Linked DNA regions of Homo sapiens: all the other regions are reported to be linked to region 2. Evidence: microRNA targets listed by miRTarBase, many of them from high-throughput screens and not tested one by one. Region 2 holds a microRNA gene; each other region holds the end of a gene's coding sequence.
Evidence for each region. The annotated mature microRNA hsa-miR-378b reads ACUGGACUUGGAGGCAGAA and lies in region 2 at 1,997-2,015, shown strand. An mRNA with a match to its seed (bases 2 to 7 or 8) in the 3' UTR can be bound and repressed. Matches are read on the target gene's strand: a 7mer-m8 pairs with bases 2 to 8, a 7mer-A1 pairs with bases 2 to 7 and ends in A, and an 8mer does both.

Region 1 (3,352 bases), not on the chromosome of region 2:
GGACCAAGGCGGTAACAATGGAAGTGGTTAGAAGTAGGCAGATTCTGAGTATTATTTTATAGGTACAGCCCACAGGTTTTGCTGATAGATTGTATATGGGGTGTGAAAGAAAGTGACGCATTAAAGATGAATCCAAGGTTTTTGGCCTGAGCAAATGGAAGAATGGAGCAGCCATTTTTGAATGGAAAAACTTGGGTGTGGGGGAAGTTTCAGATTTGGGGGCAATATCAGGATTCATTTTTTATATGTTACTTTTGAGATGCCTATAGACATCCAAATGGGGATGTTATGTAGGCAGTTGAATATAGAAGTTCGCAGGCAGAGGAGAGAAAGGTCTGGGAGTGATCATTAAGAAGATTGGATTTTAAAGCTATGAAACTGCAGGAAATCAAGTGAGTGTAGAAATGGGGTCGAAAGACTGAGCCTAAGGGCACTTAGCATTTAGTGGTTGGGGAGTTGAAGAGTTACCAGTGAAGGGAATTGAGAAGGAACAGCCAGAGAGATAAGAGGAAAACCAGATAAGTTCTAATAAAGTGTCATTCATATGTGTTGTTCTCATAATATCACATCCATTGCTCACCTTTTCCTTTTCCTCCTTCACTACCAATATCACTACCATGAGATCTGTGTGTGTGTGTGTGTGTGTATGGAATGCATAGTGCTAGTCACTTTATGTGTATAACAGGAGAATTACTGAAAAAGCTAACTCATCTTTTTTTTTTTTCCTGCTATATACTCACTAGGGAAAAAATCCCTTTTTTCCTCTTCTGATCTCTCCAGGTCAGGGAATCTAAGTCTTTGCATAAATTCTGGGTCCCCCCTTGACAATCCGCTAAGCAGGATGGCTCTGTCTGAGAGGGGAAGGTGTTAGAAGCTGGTGCTTTCAGTGGAATGGGAGGGACGAACAGCTGGAATCCTGGAGGAGAACTGATTTCTTTTCCTCTGTAAGCCTGGAGGAGAGGGGTTAAGGAGGAGAGGAAGGGGGATATTAGAGACTTGTGTTTAGCTAGCATGAAACTCTCTACAGTGGCAGCAAGATTTTGGAAGGAGAAAGGCTGCCTGTATGAGTGGACATTAGAGAATGAAAGCCACAACCTTGAAAGGGTTGGTGTGAATCAACTGTGTTTGAGTGGCGATCACTTGGGGGAACCTCTGTTGCAGAGCCTGATAAAGGCTCAGTGCCAGGGAAGGGCAGTGAGGCACCTGAAATAAAACTGCTTTGCAGAAAGAGCATGTCTAAGCCTAGGACAAGGATCAAAGTGTTTGTAGGAGAGTATTTGTTGTGACAACATAGACCTGGTTTTAGAATCTCCTCAGGACTGAGCCATCCTGGCTTGTTTTTAAGCTTTGGGGGAACACTGGCTTTGTGACTATAAACCAAGAGAGATGTAATCCTGGAACTAAATCATGGGCCATCCACTATGGTGCAGGCAGGAATTGGAACCAGCCAGAGAATCACCTCAGTCTGCTGGACTATGCTACAACATTATGGTAGAAGGCAACAGCATTAACTAAATGGTAAGACTCCACTTTCTACCTTTTGTATTGGGAAGAGAACTGCACCCTTTGGTCTAAGACATGAACCCTCAGTTTCTTGGACAATCAAGGGTGGAGAGGCCTCAAAAAGGAGAGACGGAACTTTCTAAAACTAAGGCACTAGGGATTTGAATGAATCATTGAAAACATAAAAGAGATAAAGCCTCTGAGTTTGTTAAACAGGCATTACCATTGTATATTTAAAAACTTGGGAAGTTTTAACTGAAGAAGGCAGCATGATATGATAGCTTTTGCTTTTTACAATATGATGTTATTAGTCTTGTTCTGTGTGGTTCTGGAGAGCAAAACAATAAAGCATTGTAAGTTGTATGAGTGTAAGAACAAGTATTCACTACTAATTCCCAGCACATGAATAGTACTCAATACATTTTCAATAAATGATTGAATACATGTATGATAAATGAAAACCAGTGGGTTAAACTTACAAGGAGGCAGAGGCTTTTTTTTGTTTTGTTTTGTTTTTGAGACAGAGTCTTGCTCTGTCGCCCAGGCTGGAGTGCAGTGGTGCGATCTCGGCTTACTGCAGCCTCCACTTCCCAGGTTCAAGCGATTCTCCTGCCTCAGCCTCCCGAGTAGCTGGGATTACAGGTGTGCGCACCACGCCTGGCCAATTTTTGTACTTTTAGTAGACATGGGGTTTCACCATGTTGGCCAGGCTGAAGGAGGCAGATTTTTGTCCCAGCTTATCTTTCTAAAAATTCCAAAATTAAATAGACTATCCTTAAAAAGCAGTGAAATTCTTTACCACTAGGAGTGAAACAGGAGCTAAAGAACATTTTTGGGGGATGTGATAGAGAGGATTTATTCATTTGATAATAGTTAGAACACATAACCTCTGAGATCTCTGTAATCTCAGATACTTTAGTTCTATAATTCTAAATCCAAGGGTCTCTATAGATAGGCTTGAGACAAGTGTAAACAAACTCATGATCTCAGAGAAATCTTCAAGTGGCATGTTTCAATGGTATGCTTATTAAACAAATGCTCATGACAGATTTTCACAACAGTAACGAATGTTATTTCACAACATCAAATCTTCCTTCCTCAGGAAGAAATGACATTAATAAGAAGGTTGATGGATTTGGATTATTTTTCATGTTTCCTGGAGGTAAAACCAGTGTCCTCACTTGTTTTCCTCTTTTTCCTCATTTTGAAGACTATTTGTTTTCATTTTCTTTGCCTCCTCTCTGGCTATGTGTCCCCGGAAGGCAGCTTGGATTTTGACAGCAGCAACCTCTTCTTTTTCCTTATCTTCCTCAGAAGAGTCCTTCATCGAAAGGAGAAAAAGTAAGAGACTCTTTAAATATGGCGTAGTTTTGATGCCACAAAAATAAATGGATGAAATTTAATCATTTTAGGGATGCAACTATCTGAGAGCTGTTGCTTCCTGAGGGAATTTCATATATTGTCACATTGTATATGTACCAAATGGCAAATGCCAAAATAGCAGGCATTTTGTTTTGTCACTCTTTTAATATGTCTCTGCAACAAAAGATCATTGCCAACTTTCTTTCCCCTAAAATAGTGCCTATTTAAGTTTCCTGAGCAACAACATTTTTTGGGGGGTTGGGGGGACAAGAAAGAATCCTTGAGGCATGGTAAAAATGTTAAGAAGAAAGAACTGTAAATGTTATGTTTCAAAATAATCACAATTACATATAATGAATTAGAATAACTTCTCAATTTCTCAATGATTAGTTAATCATCGTCATACATTTAAAGTGAGGTGCCAAAGAGAAATCCATTTAGTCCAATAATGTCAGTTTTAACAGGGTTGGTTGAACTTTGGCACATA
Region 2 (3,352 bases):
GAGTTAAGCTCTGCAATTTCAAAAAGTTATTAAATTAATCTATACAACTGAGACCATGCTGTGCAAGCATTTCAAAAACTCACAGACCAGTGGATTGGATAAATAGTCTCAGAAAAGAGTCTGTTTGCAGTTCCCGCCTAAGAAAACAAACAAACAAACAAAAACCCCTCCCCAACCCCCAAAAACCAAACAAGGGGAGGATTGAAAGTGTACAGTACATTCATGCGGGGGACGTGGTGGCTGGGCGGGTGCATGGCTGGTCCATGTCTGGGTGGGAGCCAGGAAGGGCTTGTTTTGGGAAAACCGCTCACTCCCGTAAGCCCCCAGTGGAGATCCCGCCCCTTGCCTTGAAGTGAAAAAGAGTTCAAACAGCATCGCAGCCAGAGAAAGGGTCTGTGGGTGGAAACGTTGGTTTTCTCTCCAGTATTTGGTTTCCGATTGTTGCTCGTTGCTGCTTGGGTGAGTTGGGTGCCTGGATGGATGGGTGCCCGGAAAGCGGGTGGCAGCGGGGTCCATGAGGGCGGGCGGGCAGGCGAGAGGGTCCTCAGCTAAAGCGACGTCTCCAGGCTGTGGATGGGGCTCCCTGGACTTGAAGAGGTAGCTGATTTGCTTGTGTCGGTCGTCAGGTTGATCCCACTGTCGATGGCGCTGTTGTTCTTGTTGAGGGATGACGGCGGGCTCGAGTTCTGCTTGAGCGCGGCATCTTCTTCCAGGTCGGTGTCATCAATGAGGGGGATGTGGGGCTGGGAATCTTCGATCCGGAATTCAGGATGAGCCATGAAGTTATGGATGGAGGTTCGAGATTCAGGCTTTTCTAAACCTTCATAGAGAGAGCTACGGAACGCCTTCACGACGCGGATCTGCAAGGGAAGCACAGGGGTCAGGAGCACTGCCCAGGGACCACAGCCAGGCTCGGGGGGCTCACAGGAGGGGCGGGTGGGAGAAGGGTTAGGGCAAAGCAGGTGGCTGGAATCCATAGTCGCTGGGTGTTATTAGCATTGACAGGATGGGGGAGAGTGAAAAAGGGGGCTCAGGTTATAGGCATCCTTGAGCTGGTTTTTAAAAATCTCTTTGGTTTTGGTAGAAACTAGTGTTAGGACAGGAGGAATCACCAAGCACCATCAAAGAGATGATGGGGAACAGTGGTTAAAGGAAGCACAGTCGACTCCTGCGGGCACCCACACCTAGTGAGAGACTGAGCCTTGTTCACTTTAAAGCAGAGGTTCAACCATGCAGACAGGGAGGAGGACCAGGTGGGAATCAAGTAGGAAAGAGGAGAGGCTATTAAAAAAATTCATCTTAGGAAAACCACACACAGTTAAGAAACCATACAACATGGAACATGTTACGTGTCACAAACAGAAAAGGCACAGAAAGGAGAGACGGTTGGATGAGTTGGGATGAGAGAGACACATGAGGGCCAAACAGAACGGGAACATCAAACCAAAGGCAGCAAAGCAAACCAAAGCCAACCCAGGGCTTTCTGAGGTGCAGAGCAGAGGCAGCCAGAAAGCACATGGGAGCTGGCGGACAGATGACATTCGGGGGCGGGCTGCATGCCACGGGGAGGCCGGGAGCCACATGGCACACACAGACAGACACACGGCTACACTTGGAAGCCTGGACAATGTGAACGGAGGTCGTTTGTACCCAGCGTTTCTTTCCTTCATGCATTTGGGAGGTAAACACTCGAGTATAGACTCAAAGCCCTGGCCGGCCAGTTATTGGAGCTTGCTTTGGGGTCTCTTATTTCCTGGGGGATTTTGTTTATTTCTTTATTTGTGCTTTGAAAACACAAAACCAAAAAACGAGGCTGGAATCAGATGGCCAAACCCAGCCCCAGTGGGATTCTGGGGTGTGTGGAACTGAGTCACAAAACAGCAAGTTCTTTCATTTTCTGTCTCAGTTGTGAACCACACGTCCTGGGGCCTCAGTTTCCTCCGCTGAAGAATGGGAGGAGGCTGGTCATTGAGTCTTCAAGGCTAGTGGAAAGAGCACTGGACTTGGAGGCAGAAAGACCCAACTTGCATCCTGGCTCTGCCACATCTGGTGCCTTGACTGTGGACAAGCCACACTAGCTCTCTGGTTGTCCTCTGTCCTGCCTCACAGGGTGCAGAGGGACGGGACCCTCACTTGGAAGAGAGGTGTCCCTTCTCTGGACTCCTGGGAGGGGCAGCAGTGCCTGTCATCTCAAGAGTCTGATGGGACTTGGGACAAAGGTGCCTCCTCCTCTCGTCCCAGCCCCAACTCGGAGTGGAGTCAGAGGTGGAGAAAACAAGGCGGCGTTGGCGCCTCCAGGACAGAGCCTTAGTCGGCTGCTGTGTGCAGGCCAAGTGGCACCCACCTGCAGAGCAGTGGCTGCCCTGCACCACAGGCCTGCGGGGAGGCAGGGGACTGGACGAGACGGTCGTGGGGAGGCCCCTGAAGTCCCAGGACTTGAGCTCTCAGCGGAACCCAGGGGTAGCTCCTTTGTGAAACCCTGGTGGGGAAAGCCCTCTTTTATGGAAGTGGAGTTTCTAGGTGACTGTGGTTGATGATTTTAAGTGTCATCGCTGAAGGTTTGTTTTACTGTTGCAGAGGGAATTCTTTCTAAAGCATGTCATACGCTCCTCTGACTTCTAATTTAGAGTGCACAGAGAAGAATTTAACATAAGCTTTGTCAATTATCCTTCTTGGTCTTAGGTAAGACCCCATGGATTGTCTTGTTTTTTCTCCCTTGCTGTCAGTCATCGCTTACTAGTTAGTGCTGACTTTTCTGTTTTCTGAAAAGCACCTCTGTCCTTTCACCTTGCATACTGTGAGCTGGGACTCCAGGGTACCCCACTTGCTGGAATTGTGCTTTAAATAAGAGGCAACAAGTGCCAAATAAGAGCCAGCCAGACACGGCCTTTATGCTGGTGCTCCATCATGGCCACTGTGGCTGCTCTGAGCTCTTTCCCCCTGGAGTCCCTCTTTGTGGCTCTGCAGAGATGGTTCATATTCTGATCTCCTGAAAAGTGAGCCGTTACACCTTGATTAACTGAAAACAAAGAAGGCGCTGCAGGCCTCAGCTTTCTTGTTTGTAGAATGGGAATAGCATCAAGGCTGTAGCTGCCTAGCCTGGTGCTCAGTGTGTTCTGAGGTTGAAGTGCAATTCAGATGCTGACTGGAACACCTAGTGTATGTGTGGGGCAGGGGGATGGTGGCAGGACCCTGTCATGTGACTGACAACGCAGAGGGGATGACACACAATGAGATGAGGCCCCTCCGCCCTCCCCGTGGCATGGAGACAACAGAAAAAATGAACTGCTCTGGACAAGACTGTGGGGACGAGACTTTTTGGGACACCCCGCCACGGCCATCTCAAGTCTCC
Region 3 (3,000 bases), not on the chromosome of region 2:
CAGAATATAAGCTCCATCAGGGAGATTTTGTTTATTCTTGTATCAGTAATCTCTAAAACAGTACTTGGCACAATAGCATTTGTTGAATATATGAATGCACAGAACAGCTTACATATCGAGTACACTTCAGCAAGAGTTTCCTTTGAATCACTTAAAATTATCTATCAGAAGTTGTTGCAATTAATCTTACTTAGAATTTATATTAAACCTGTTATGGATTTTAAATCGAGGTTTATTTATTGCTAAAATTGCGGGAAGTTATTAAGTCCTTTAAAGTCTTTCCATGTAAATTATATTTTAATTTTATAATTGGTATTAGGAATAAAGTGTTTTAATTTTTATTTTTATTTTCCTTTTTTAGGAGTTAACAGAGCAGTTTCATAAAGTTGAATCTCAACTGAATAAGCTAAATCATCTCCTCACTGATATTCTTGCTGATGTGAAGACAAAAAGAAAAACTTTGGCAAATAATAAATTACATCAAATGGAAAGAGAATTCTATGTATATTTTTTAAAAGATGAAGATTATCTGAAAGATATTGTGGAGAATTTAGAAACTCAATCAAAGATTAAGGCTGTTAGTCTTGAAGATTGAAAATTACTGAAAACTGAATCTTTATTACGTGTCCTCTTTTATTTATTAGAAGACTGTGTATAATAAACACTACTAAATTTTTAAAATTTGAGGTCAATGGAACATTTAATTTGATGAATTGAACTATTATATTAATTTGTCTTTTTTCTCATGTAGTACATTCAGAATACCAGTGCTTTTTATGACTTGAGCATGTGTTTAGTGGTACTTAGTCCTGGTAATTTTTTACTTACAGGGAAAAAGCATTATTACATAATGCAAATATTTTTTAATATAGTTATCTCTCTCCTTTTTAGAAATAGAAATTTTCTGCCGTTAAATTTTTTTTTGAGATAGAGTCTCACTCTGTCTCCAGGCTGGAATGCAGTGGCACGATCTTGGCTCACTGCAACCTCTGCCTCCCGGGTTCAAGTGATTCTCCTGCCTCAGCCTCCCAAGTAGCTGGGACTACAGGCGCACACCGCCACACCCAGCTAATTTTTTTGTATTTTAGTAGAAAAGGGGTTTCACCATGTTGGCCAGGATGGTCTCAATCTCTTGACCTCTTGATCCCCTCTCCCGGCCTCCCAAAGTGCCGGAATTACAGGCATGAGCCACCACGCTCAGCCGCTATTAAATATTTTAAAATGTGTAGAACTTCTAGTCAGCATTTTTAAATCTGTAGACCTTAATATGTGAAATAGCCAAGTCCCCTCATGTTTGACTGTCAAATAAAATTCTGCTGCTCAAATTGTATTCCTCCATAATTCCCTGCTATAGACCTTTAGGCTGTTTTAATGTCCCTACTTGTACCACAGAGTATTAGGACTTCCTTGGCCTGCCTGCATTCATTTTAGAGTCTGAATTCTGGGGACTCAAAAGTTTCTACAAGACAGCTGAGCAGTGCTTTGACTTTAATGTGACTTACACATCATAAATGACTTTCAAATGAAATTTGAATTTCAAAATTCTGTAAAAGTGGTTGCTCAAAAGATGTATGATACTATTTTAATCAGTTTAAGAGCAAAAATGTCTAATTGTATTTAACAATGGTATTTGGGCAGCCAGAAAATATTTTAAGCGTTGCTCTAAAATAATTTGAAGTAGCTCATCTGTTATTACATCAGATGCTTCTTGAGTGCCCAATTTATACATGGCCTGTGGTAAATACCATGTGAGCTTTGTAGGAATACCTTTAAGAATATTCCTCACCTGTTCGTAATATGGAATGCCAATCTAAAAACTACATGTTTTGGGTGGTCTTTATGGAATTTTTTAGCTATAACCATCAGAAAACAGGCATACCTAGATGACAGATGAACCTTCTTGATTTTTGAAACCCATTGAACAAAAATATTTTGCCAATTATTGTGTTTATGTTATTTAAAATTTTATGTAAACCTTAATTTTGTAGCAGTAAATTTTGTTTAAGATTTTGCTATCAGCTCCCTATCACCTGAGCAACTTTTTTTTTGTTGTATATGTTTTTTTCTATTCTATTTCGGAATAGAGAATTTACTTAAAATTTTTATTTTCTCCAAAAATGTGGAAAATATGTCACCTGGTTTCCTGGTTTATGGTAGCATATTCTGTTTAAATTAGTGTCACATATTTAGATGTGTGGCCAGACGCTTGATTTATTAGTTAATTTTTGAGACAGAGTCTAACTGTGTCACTCAGGCTGGAGTTCAGTGGAATGATCTCGGCTCACTGCAACCTCCGCCTCCCAGGTTCAAGTGATTCTCCTGCTTCAGCCTCCTGAGTAGATGGGATTGTAGGCGTGCACCACTGCACCTGGCTAATTTTTGTATTTTCAGTAGAGACGGGGTTTCACCATGTTGGTCAGGCTGGTCTCAAACTCCTGACCTCAAGTGATCTACCCGCCTTGGCCTTCCATAGTGCTGGCATTACAGGTGTAAGCCACCATGCCCCTGCCCAGATGCTTGATTTATACTGTCCCCACCCAAACCTTGACTTGCTCAGCCCAGGGGGCCAGCAGGGCAGATCAAGGCACGGATGGTAGTTGTGTGTCTGCCGTAATTACCCAAGTTACTTATAATCGTTGTGTTACTAGGTAGGTTTATTTGAAGATTTATTTATTTATTTATTTATTTTTTATTTTTTGAGACGGAGTTTCACTCTTGTTGCCCAGGCTGGAGTGCAGTGGCATGATCTCAGCTCACTGCAACCTCTGCCTTCTGGGTTCACGTGATTCTCCTGCCTCAGGCCTCCCGAGTAGCTGGGATTACAGGTGCCACCATGCCTGGTTAATTTTTTGTATTTTTAGTAGAGACGGGGTTTCATCATGTTGGCCAGGTTGGTCTCGAACTCCTGACCTCAGGTGATCCACCCGCCTCAGTCTACCAAAGTGCAGGGATCACAGGCATGAGCTTCCGCGCTCAGCCTATTTGAAGATTTAATAACAT

Region 1: miRTarBase lists SPA17 as a target of hsa-miR-378b. Seed matches in the 3' UTR shown: 7mer-m8 at 1,469-1,475.
Region 3: miRTarBase lists HAUS3 as a target of hsa-miR-378b. The part of its 3' UTR that is shown has no 7-base or 8-base seed match.

The regions. Positions count from the first base shown.
Region 1 is chr11:124,693,775-124,697,126 of GRCh38, reverse strand. SPA17 (sperm autoantigenic protein 17) reads right to left here. Exons shown (of 5, transcript NM_017425.4): 5 at 1-2,824. The coding sequence ends at 2,681. Among named protein-coding and RNA genes, the nearest start is that of SPA17, 22 kb to the right of the region's middle.
Region 2 is chr3:10,328,266-10,331,617 of GRCh38, forward strand. MIR378B (microRNA 378b) reads left to right here and starts at 1,964; the gene lies at 1,964-2,020. ATP2B2 (ATPase plasma membrane Ca2+ transporting 2) reads right to left here. Exons shown (of 23, transcript NM_001001331.4): 23 at 1-860. The coding sequence ends at 549. RefSeq lists an enhancer at 19-567.
Region 3 is chr4:2,229,522-2,232,521 of GRCh38, reverse strand. It overlaps HAUS3 (HAUS augmin like complex subunit 3), which reads left to right. Exons shown (of 6, transcript NM_001303143.2): 6 at 362-3,000. The coding sequence ends at 595. The region is part of intron 2 of POLN (DNA polymerase nu); the gene reads left to right. Among named protein-coding and RNA genes, the nearest start is that of HAUS3, 11 kb to the left of the region's middle.